Homo sapiens: one gene and its partner. The protein of the gene in region 1 purifies or fractionates together with the protein of each later gene. This does not show direct contact. Each region holds a gene or a part of one and is shown on either strand. Other genes may lie near its edges.

Region 1 (3,825 bases):
TTGAGTTAACAACACTAGAACCATGAGAATGAGAAACCCTGGGCTTCTAACTCCCCCTCTAACACTTCCCCACCAGAAGGAGCCTTCTTGCACTCTAACCTCTAAGAATCCACCTTATTTAATATTTATTTAGTATTCATGTTACAGCTCTATGAGGGGAGAAATATACTGGAAAGAAGGAAAAATACCATTTTTTTCTCATTCTGAGCAAATGTGCGCATGCGCGTGCACACACACACACACACACACACACACACACACACACACACACACGTATACACAAAACCCCACAAGAGTATAGTACTATCTATGAAGGAAAGAGATACCACGTTAAATTTAACCAAGTATTTAGGAATGACAGGGAGCTAGGAAGGCGAAAACACATGTAATTTTATTTTTGTTTAACCTTAAGCTTGCCAACTTCTTTCCCTGAACAGCATTTGTCTTGTTTTGATACCCACCTACACTTATATTAGAAACGTACTGCAAACTATTTAGTGACTCCACTTTTAATTTATGGTCGTATGACTAAGATGTTTTGAATATAAGCCTATCCGTATGCCAGATATAAATTTCAGGAACTCTTAATGTCTCTTCTTTTACAGAAACTCTACCTCTATCCTGATGTAATTAGGTTGATTAAGAAAATTAAAGGCCACGGGCCAGAAAACTAACTTCCACAAATGCAACAAAAGGAAAATTTCTCCAATAACCTGTATGCAATGGGAAATCTTTCTTTTAAGTACCAAGTCAATTTCTTTAACTGTACAATGTATTCTAATTTGAAGGTTTTCAAATATAATACAGTAACAACAAAATATAATAAAATTAAGACTATAAGAAAACAGAGTAAATGGTATAATTCAATAATGACTAAAATAAAATGACACTATGGATTTTGTAATCAACCTATAATTATCTATTTAAATTTCACTTTACATACATAAGATCACAGCTGAGGTTAACCATAATTTCAAATTTTATCACCAGCCACTTGTGCTATTTTATCACATTTGAAAATATTCACTCGTATTATTTACTTCAAACAGTAATCTATAAATTTGTTTAGACTATAATAATTAAGGACCTTTCCTTCTTCAGGATAACTTAAAAAATTAAATGATGTATTGAACATACTACTAAAGAAAGTTTACTTTTTGATTATGGTCTCTGCATTGAAAATCTGTAGGAATTTTTCTTTAATAATTTTCAAATCTTCCCATGGCCTCTCTGTTCACAGAAATATCATCTTTGAAACAACTTGTGTGAGTACTTTATAAATCAAAAATTGATTCACATGACCATATTACCATAATCACCAATTTTAACAGTCTCCTACATATTTTCTATATCACTTTTCTTGATTACAAAATGTCAGTAATAAGAACACGCTCTTAATATAACAGAATATTTAATTACATCAGTTTCCCATGAACACACCAAAGTCACTTAATAATTATATTGGCCATTTCCACTGATCGGCAGGAGGCTCTTCCACTAATGGCTCCCATAGTTTCCATTCCCTCATTTTTCTTGCCAGATTTAGTTCATGTTCAGCCTGTTAATACAAATTTTTTAAAAGATCATTGGATTTTACTCTTCAACAGATATTTATCAGAACAACTGAAATTTAACTATTAGTTACTACTTTCATTTAATATCTCATAATCTATTCCACCATCAAATGTTGAATATTAAGTAATTAAATTACCTTAATTCTCACATCTACATAATCAGGAGTAAGAAAGGATATCTTTTGTTATCTTCTATTTGATTGAAATAGGCTATAGTGTTTAAAAGTTTAGCTGGTGAGGTTTTTTATCTTAATAATATTTCACAAGTTTTTTGAGCATCAGAAGTATGTCTTTTCATCTATGTCAGTGGCTTTCAAACTTTATTTTACCATGGCCCACAGTAAGAAAATATGTTTTATTTTGAGTTCCACAATACAAACATATAACTAAAACTTTTTAAATTATTATCTTTACTGGCAGTGATATATTCTTTTTTCTATTGTGTTTTTTTAAGCTAATCACTATCCAACTAACTGATTCCATGACCCACAGTCACTTGAGACCCAGAGTTTATAAAACAGTGATCTATGGAATGTAGAACACAATACATGTATAATTAATATTTACTAACTGAGTAAATTCCTTAATCAAATTATGTTTCATTTAATTTTTCCTTTCAAACACAACTTATATTTAACACACACATTTTAGGTAGCTTTTTATTTCATATTTTTTCTACAACAAACAATATTTATGACAACTCTAGCCAACTTATAAGATGAATACTATTAAACACCTGTCAGGATGTTAGAAAAGAAATTCAAACACAGAATAAGCGCTCAGATTATATTCAAGGTAATTATTATTACACAGTTAAAAGATAATACCCCATCTATGACAGCGGTCCCAAAAGTCAATCTATGTTTACAAGCAACTATAAAAAACAATGAGTTAAAGAGCAGATGAATGGAAATCAGGGGTAGAGGTATTACTAATGCCAAAAGGAGAAAATAATTTAAATACTGATAAAATATTTCCTAAGGTTGCCCTGGGTCTCACGAACATCCAATGCTTTCTCAATCTCCCCCAGCCATTATAGGGCATGAGGAGGTCACCTAGGCCTCATTCATCCTTGAGAATCAGCCCTATCTCAGGAACCTGGACCCAGCTGCACCTGGCCCCTGATGCCTATTTCCTCCTTTCTGACACACCATCATACCATCCATCTAGAAATGGGACTGTCTAATATGTTAGCCACTACCCATACATGGCTACTGGGGACTTGAAATGCAGCTAGTCCAAATTCAGATGTGCTGCAAAGTGTAAAATACATACCAGATTTTGATGACTTCATATAAAAAAGAATGTAAAATATCTCAATATTTTTATGATTATATTTAAATAATATACTACATATACTGAGTTAAAAAAATACTAAAATTAATTTACCCTTAATACTGACCATGAAAACATGGGGAACTGCACAGCTGACTTAAAAATACTTAATATGCCTTAAAACTTAATTCCATGAAAAATTGATGTATCAACTAAATAAAGTCATGATCAAAGTGAAATCAGGTGGTACAGAAAAGAGAAATAGGTATAGGGCAACAGTATAAGGTTTGCGGCAAGTTCCCATAACACTGTATCTAGTACCACAGCCAACCTGACGAATATAAAGGCCAGGTAAACAGGCCTTTGAATAACTGAAACAGTCTACATTCATAGAAAGCTGTCTGAATGCTATATTCCTCTTTTTCCAGAGCCATCTAACAATTCTTTTGATTTGGTATATCATGTCTGTTGGTGATATACCTCCCTAATCTCCAATATTATCCAATATTTCCTTTTATCTGTCCTTCAATCAACAGTAAGAAAACATTAGAAAGGGTTACATTTGAAAAAAGATGCAACAAAATAAAATTAAATGAAACAATTGAATATTTATCAGACACTTATAAGATGAAGACATTCTAAACCTATAATATGAGGGTTGTAGGGGTGTGGAACAACAAAATTTCACCAAATAAAAAAAATTTGAGCTGGGCAGGGTGGCTCACGCCTGTAATCCCAGCACTTTGGGAGGCCGAGGCAGGCAGATCACCTGAGGTCAGGAGTTCGAGACCAGCCTGACCAAAATGGAGAAACCCTGTCTCTACTAAAAATACAAAATTAGCTGGATGTGGTGGCACATGCCTGTAATCCTAGCTACTTAGGAGGCTGAGGCAGGAGAATTGCTTGAACCCGGGAGGCGGAGGTTGTGGTGAGCCGAGATCATGCCACTGCACTCCAGCCTGGGCAACAAGAGCAA
Region 2 (3,825 bases), on another chromosome or scaffold:
TCCCATCACTGAGATACGAGCATTTGGCCAAATGTAGAGAAATCTTGGGCTGGGGGAAGAAAAGGAAGAATAAACAAATTAAGTCAATATACAACATAGATTTTCAGAGGCCCATGTTTGCCTTTTAAATTAGTGGTTCCTGATTCTGGCTGCACATTACAATCATCTGTAGAGCTTTCACAAATATACAAATGCCTGGAACACACCCCAGACTAGACTCCAGAGGAGGGTCCTGAGCACAGATGGGACTTCTAAGTTCTCCATGTAATTCTGGGTATAAAAGCGTTCATAATATCCTCTCATGATCTACAGTCATGTCCTTTTTTCCATTCCTGATAGTGGTTATATGTGCTGTCTCTCTTTATTTTTTAGTTTAAGCATAAGATTATCAAGTTTGTTGAACTTTCAAACCAAACAACTTTGGGCTATACTGATTCTTCTATCTGATGTCTGCTCTTCATTATGTCCTTTCTATTTGTCACGGGTTTAACGTGCTGTTCTTTGAACTTCCCACAGATGAAGGCTTAGCTCACTGACTTGCAGTCTTGCTTCTTTTCCCGTATATGCCTTTAAGGCTACATACCTTTCTCAGAGCCAGACTTTAGCTGCACTGCACAAATCTTAATGTGTGGCATTTTCATTATCAGCCATTTCAAGTATTTCTTGACTCCCATTGTAGATTTCTTCCAAATAACACCTTTGGCATTAAATTTCATTTCACCCCTCCAAATGATACAAATTACGGTATAATTGATTGAGATCTGGGAATGGCATTCTATATTTCAAATACACCTGAAATAAACTGACCATGTATTTTATACTTGAAGCATGTTTCTTTGTTTCAGAGAAAATCATGACACCTACCTATATGCTCTGCCACACATCCCATAGTTTCCGGCTCCATAGGAGCCCCCAATGATGAGGGTTATCTTAGGCACTTGGGCACAGGCCACAGCGGCCACCATCTTGGCACCATCCTTGGCAATTCCTTCAGCTTCATACTCTCTACCAACCATAAATCCTGAGAGAAAGATCAGAAAGAGAGCCTCTGGGTGATGGGATTAATATGCGGAACGCAATTCCACCAAAAGGACATCTTGTTTTACTAAACTCATCTTACTAAATGCCTCTCGCCTTAAGAAAATGTTTATATGTGAAACATACCGTTAAAAAGTTTGCTTTAAAAGGATAAAATAAAATTTTCTCTAATCACTTTCTAAATTTTCTTAAAGCAGTTCATCTGGATGCACACAGAAACCTTCAAACAATATGAGGATGCAATCTATCTTCAAGAGATGATCTTGGCTGGGTGCAGTGACTCACCCCCATAATACCAACAATTTGGGAAGCCTAAGCGGGAGGATCAGTTGAGGCCAGGTGTTTGAGACCAGCCTGGGCAACAAAGCGAGACCCTACCTCTATTTAAAAATAAATAAATAAAAATTTTAAAAAGGAGATGATGTCAAAGAAGCAGCTTGATGCTGAAAAGAATGTGACATGGCTAGTTAAGGACAAAGTGCTGTGATGAGCCTAACTATGAGGGCTTTAGCTTTCACTGACCTGGTTTTAAAACAGACTGTTCTTTCTAAAGTGATGCTTTGAAACTTTGAAGACATAAAGATGAATGTTTCATAGAGATGCTAACAGTCCCTGCCAGTGACTCAATAGCAAGGTTAAAAAAAAACTATTTTTCCATTTCAATAGAGGATCCTTCTATTTCTTCAAGCCCCTAGCTCTGTGGAGGCTGCTCTGCAACTTCACTGCCTTCCAGAACTTGGGTTCCTCTTTCTCTGCCTTATAACACTGAGTTGGGCTTCGCTTGTCTCCTTACCCCGCAAGTCTCCAGCAAAGGCATTTCTTCCATCTGTGGGCCTGCAGACTCACCTGCCTCATTGACTGCCACTATCCCTGGTTTGCCAAACTCCAGTATCTGGTCATCCAATTCAACCCAACCAGTTCCTCCAGAGCACGTGTGCCTTCTGCAGTCACCACAGGAATGGCAGCACAGCCCTTTACTTGGCACCATCTGCTTCCTGCAGCTATCCTACTCAGCTGGACCCTCAGAAAAGCTCAGAAACTCCTCAATCTCCCCAGCCTTGACTCCATTGTAACATTCCCACCATACCTACTTCAAATATCAGCTGTCTTCAAGTTCTCACCCCACCCAACCCGACCCACCATCCCTCTATTCTCTGGAGGGGATCCTGCCTTCAAAAAGAAGAGTGAGGCATCTCACTTCGCTTTCTCAAATCCTTCTTCTTCCAATCTTAAGAAAACTGCATAATCATGCTCCCCATCTTCCTTTACTCTTGAAGAAAAAGGAAAAAATCAGAGGTACTCGAAGACTGTCACTGAACCTTCTTCTCTTCTCTCAGGGGGGTTCTTATCTATTCCCACAGCTTTAAAATTACCTCCATATTCTGATGATGTCTACATTTGCATCTCTACCTAAAACACCTCTCCTGTGCTGAGACTTATTCACCTGCCCACTATATGCCTCCAGGTGAATATCCCACAGGAACCTCAAATGCAATGCTGAAAAACTAAACTCAACCCAACAGGGCCAAAACAAAACAAAACAAAAATGTAGATATCTTCAAACCACAGAGTTTTAACTGCCTGGTGGTTAACAATCCAGGAATCATTATTAAAAACAAGAACTCTGGTATAGTTAGGCTTCAGAATCCTTTCTATCTGCCCTTTTACATAAGTTACCATGCAGGACCCTCTTAGGCTGCCATTTGGATATAACTTCTCTCAACATTCATCTAACCAAATATCATGAACCTAAGTAGCTCACAGGATGAAGATGCTTTAGCACCAGTACTATTTCAAGCCCTGTTGACTGCCAAGAGCCTGACTCTTCCTTCTCAAAGAGGCTTGCATGATCCCAACAAGTACTAAGAGCCTCTCCTTCCTTTGAAGCTGAGGTAGCCTGGGATGGGGGAGGCTGTTTTCTGCTAACCAACATATCTGAGTGCCCTGTATATCTCAGACACTCTGCAACATATAATGAAGGATACCAGAGAATCAGAGAATTCACTCTTCAACCGTAACAGACCTTAAAAATCAATTTATCCACCATGTTAAGGTCATCTCTGGAGTAAAGTCCAGAGAGGTGACATATCTCACTTTGGTCATACCATTCTTTGGGGCCAAAACTCAAATCCCCAGACTTTGGTTCAGGGTATACACATACATTTTAAAATGATGTTACTTAAGTTGAATTAACTGTACAATAAAAGGGAAGACCGTAGCACGTGCCTGAAATCTTGAGGAGGAAAAGGGTCCTAGGAAAAGCATGATGCTCTCTGCAGTGATCAGATCATGCTCCTGCTGCTTTCTGGGTGTGTGGCTGTGCACACACAGGAGTAAAGGGTGGCCATGTGAATGCTGATCAGGTACATAACTCAGAAATAGCTTCACTTAGAAAATATGGATAATCAGCAAGGTGTGGTGGCTCGTGGCTCATGTCTGTAGTATCAGCACTTTGGGAGAACAAGGCGGGCAGATTGCTTGAGCTCAGGAGTTTGAGGCCAGTCTGGGCAACATGGTCTGGGTGAAACTACGTCTTACAAAAATACAAAAATTAACCAGGCATGGTGGCACATGCCTGTAGGCCCAGCTACTTGGGGGAAAGAAAATATGGATAATCTCCTCAGAATATTTAACATGCATGAAGAAAAGTGCTAACTCTTAAAGGGCCTCCAGAAAGAGCATGTCCAGTAGAACTTCCTGCTCTGATGAAGTGGTCTACATGTGTGCTGTCCAATACATGAGCCACACTGATGGTACAGCTCTGGAATCAATACAACCAAACTGATT

Evidence for each region.
Region 2: the proteins of NDUFA5 (region 1) and MCCC2 fractionate together in Homo sapiens (co-fractionation; one large-scale study listed by BioGRID). This does not show direct contact.

Annotation. Positions count from the first base shown.
Region 1 is NC_000007.14:123,540,663-123,544,487, forward strand, and holds part of NDUFA5 (NADH dehydrogenase [ubiquinone] 1 alpha subcomplex subunit 5), read right to left. Parts: intron 1,559-3,825; coding exon 1,457-1,558; 3' UTR 1-1,456. UniProt on the Homo sapiens protein: Accessory subunit of the mitochondrial membrane respiratory chain NADH dehydrogenase (Complex I), that is believed not to be involved in catalysis. Complex I functions in the transfer of electrons from NADH to the respiratory chain.
Region 2 is NC_000005.10:71,646,293-71,650,117, reverse strand, and holds part of MCCC2 (methylcrotonoyl-CoA carboxylase beta chain, mitochondrial isoform 1 precursor), read right to left. Parts: intron 1,022-3,825; coding exon 865-1,021; intron 50-864; coding exon 1-49. UniProt on the Homo sapiens protein: Carboxyltransferase subunit of the 3-methylcrotonyl-CoA carboxylase, an enzyme that catalyzes the conversion of 3-methylcrotonyl-CoA to 3-methylglutaconyl-CoA, a critical step for leucine and isovaleric acid catabolism.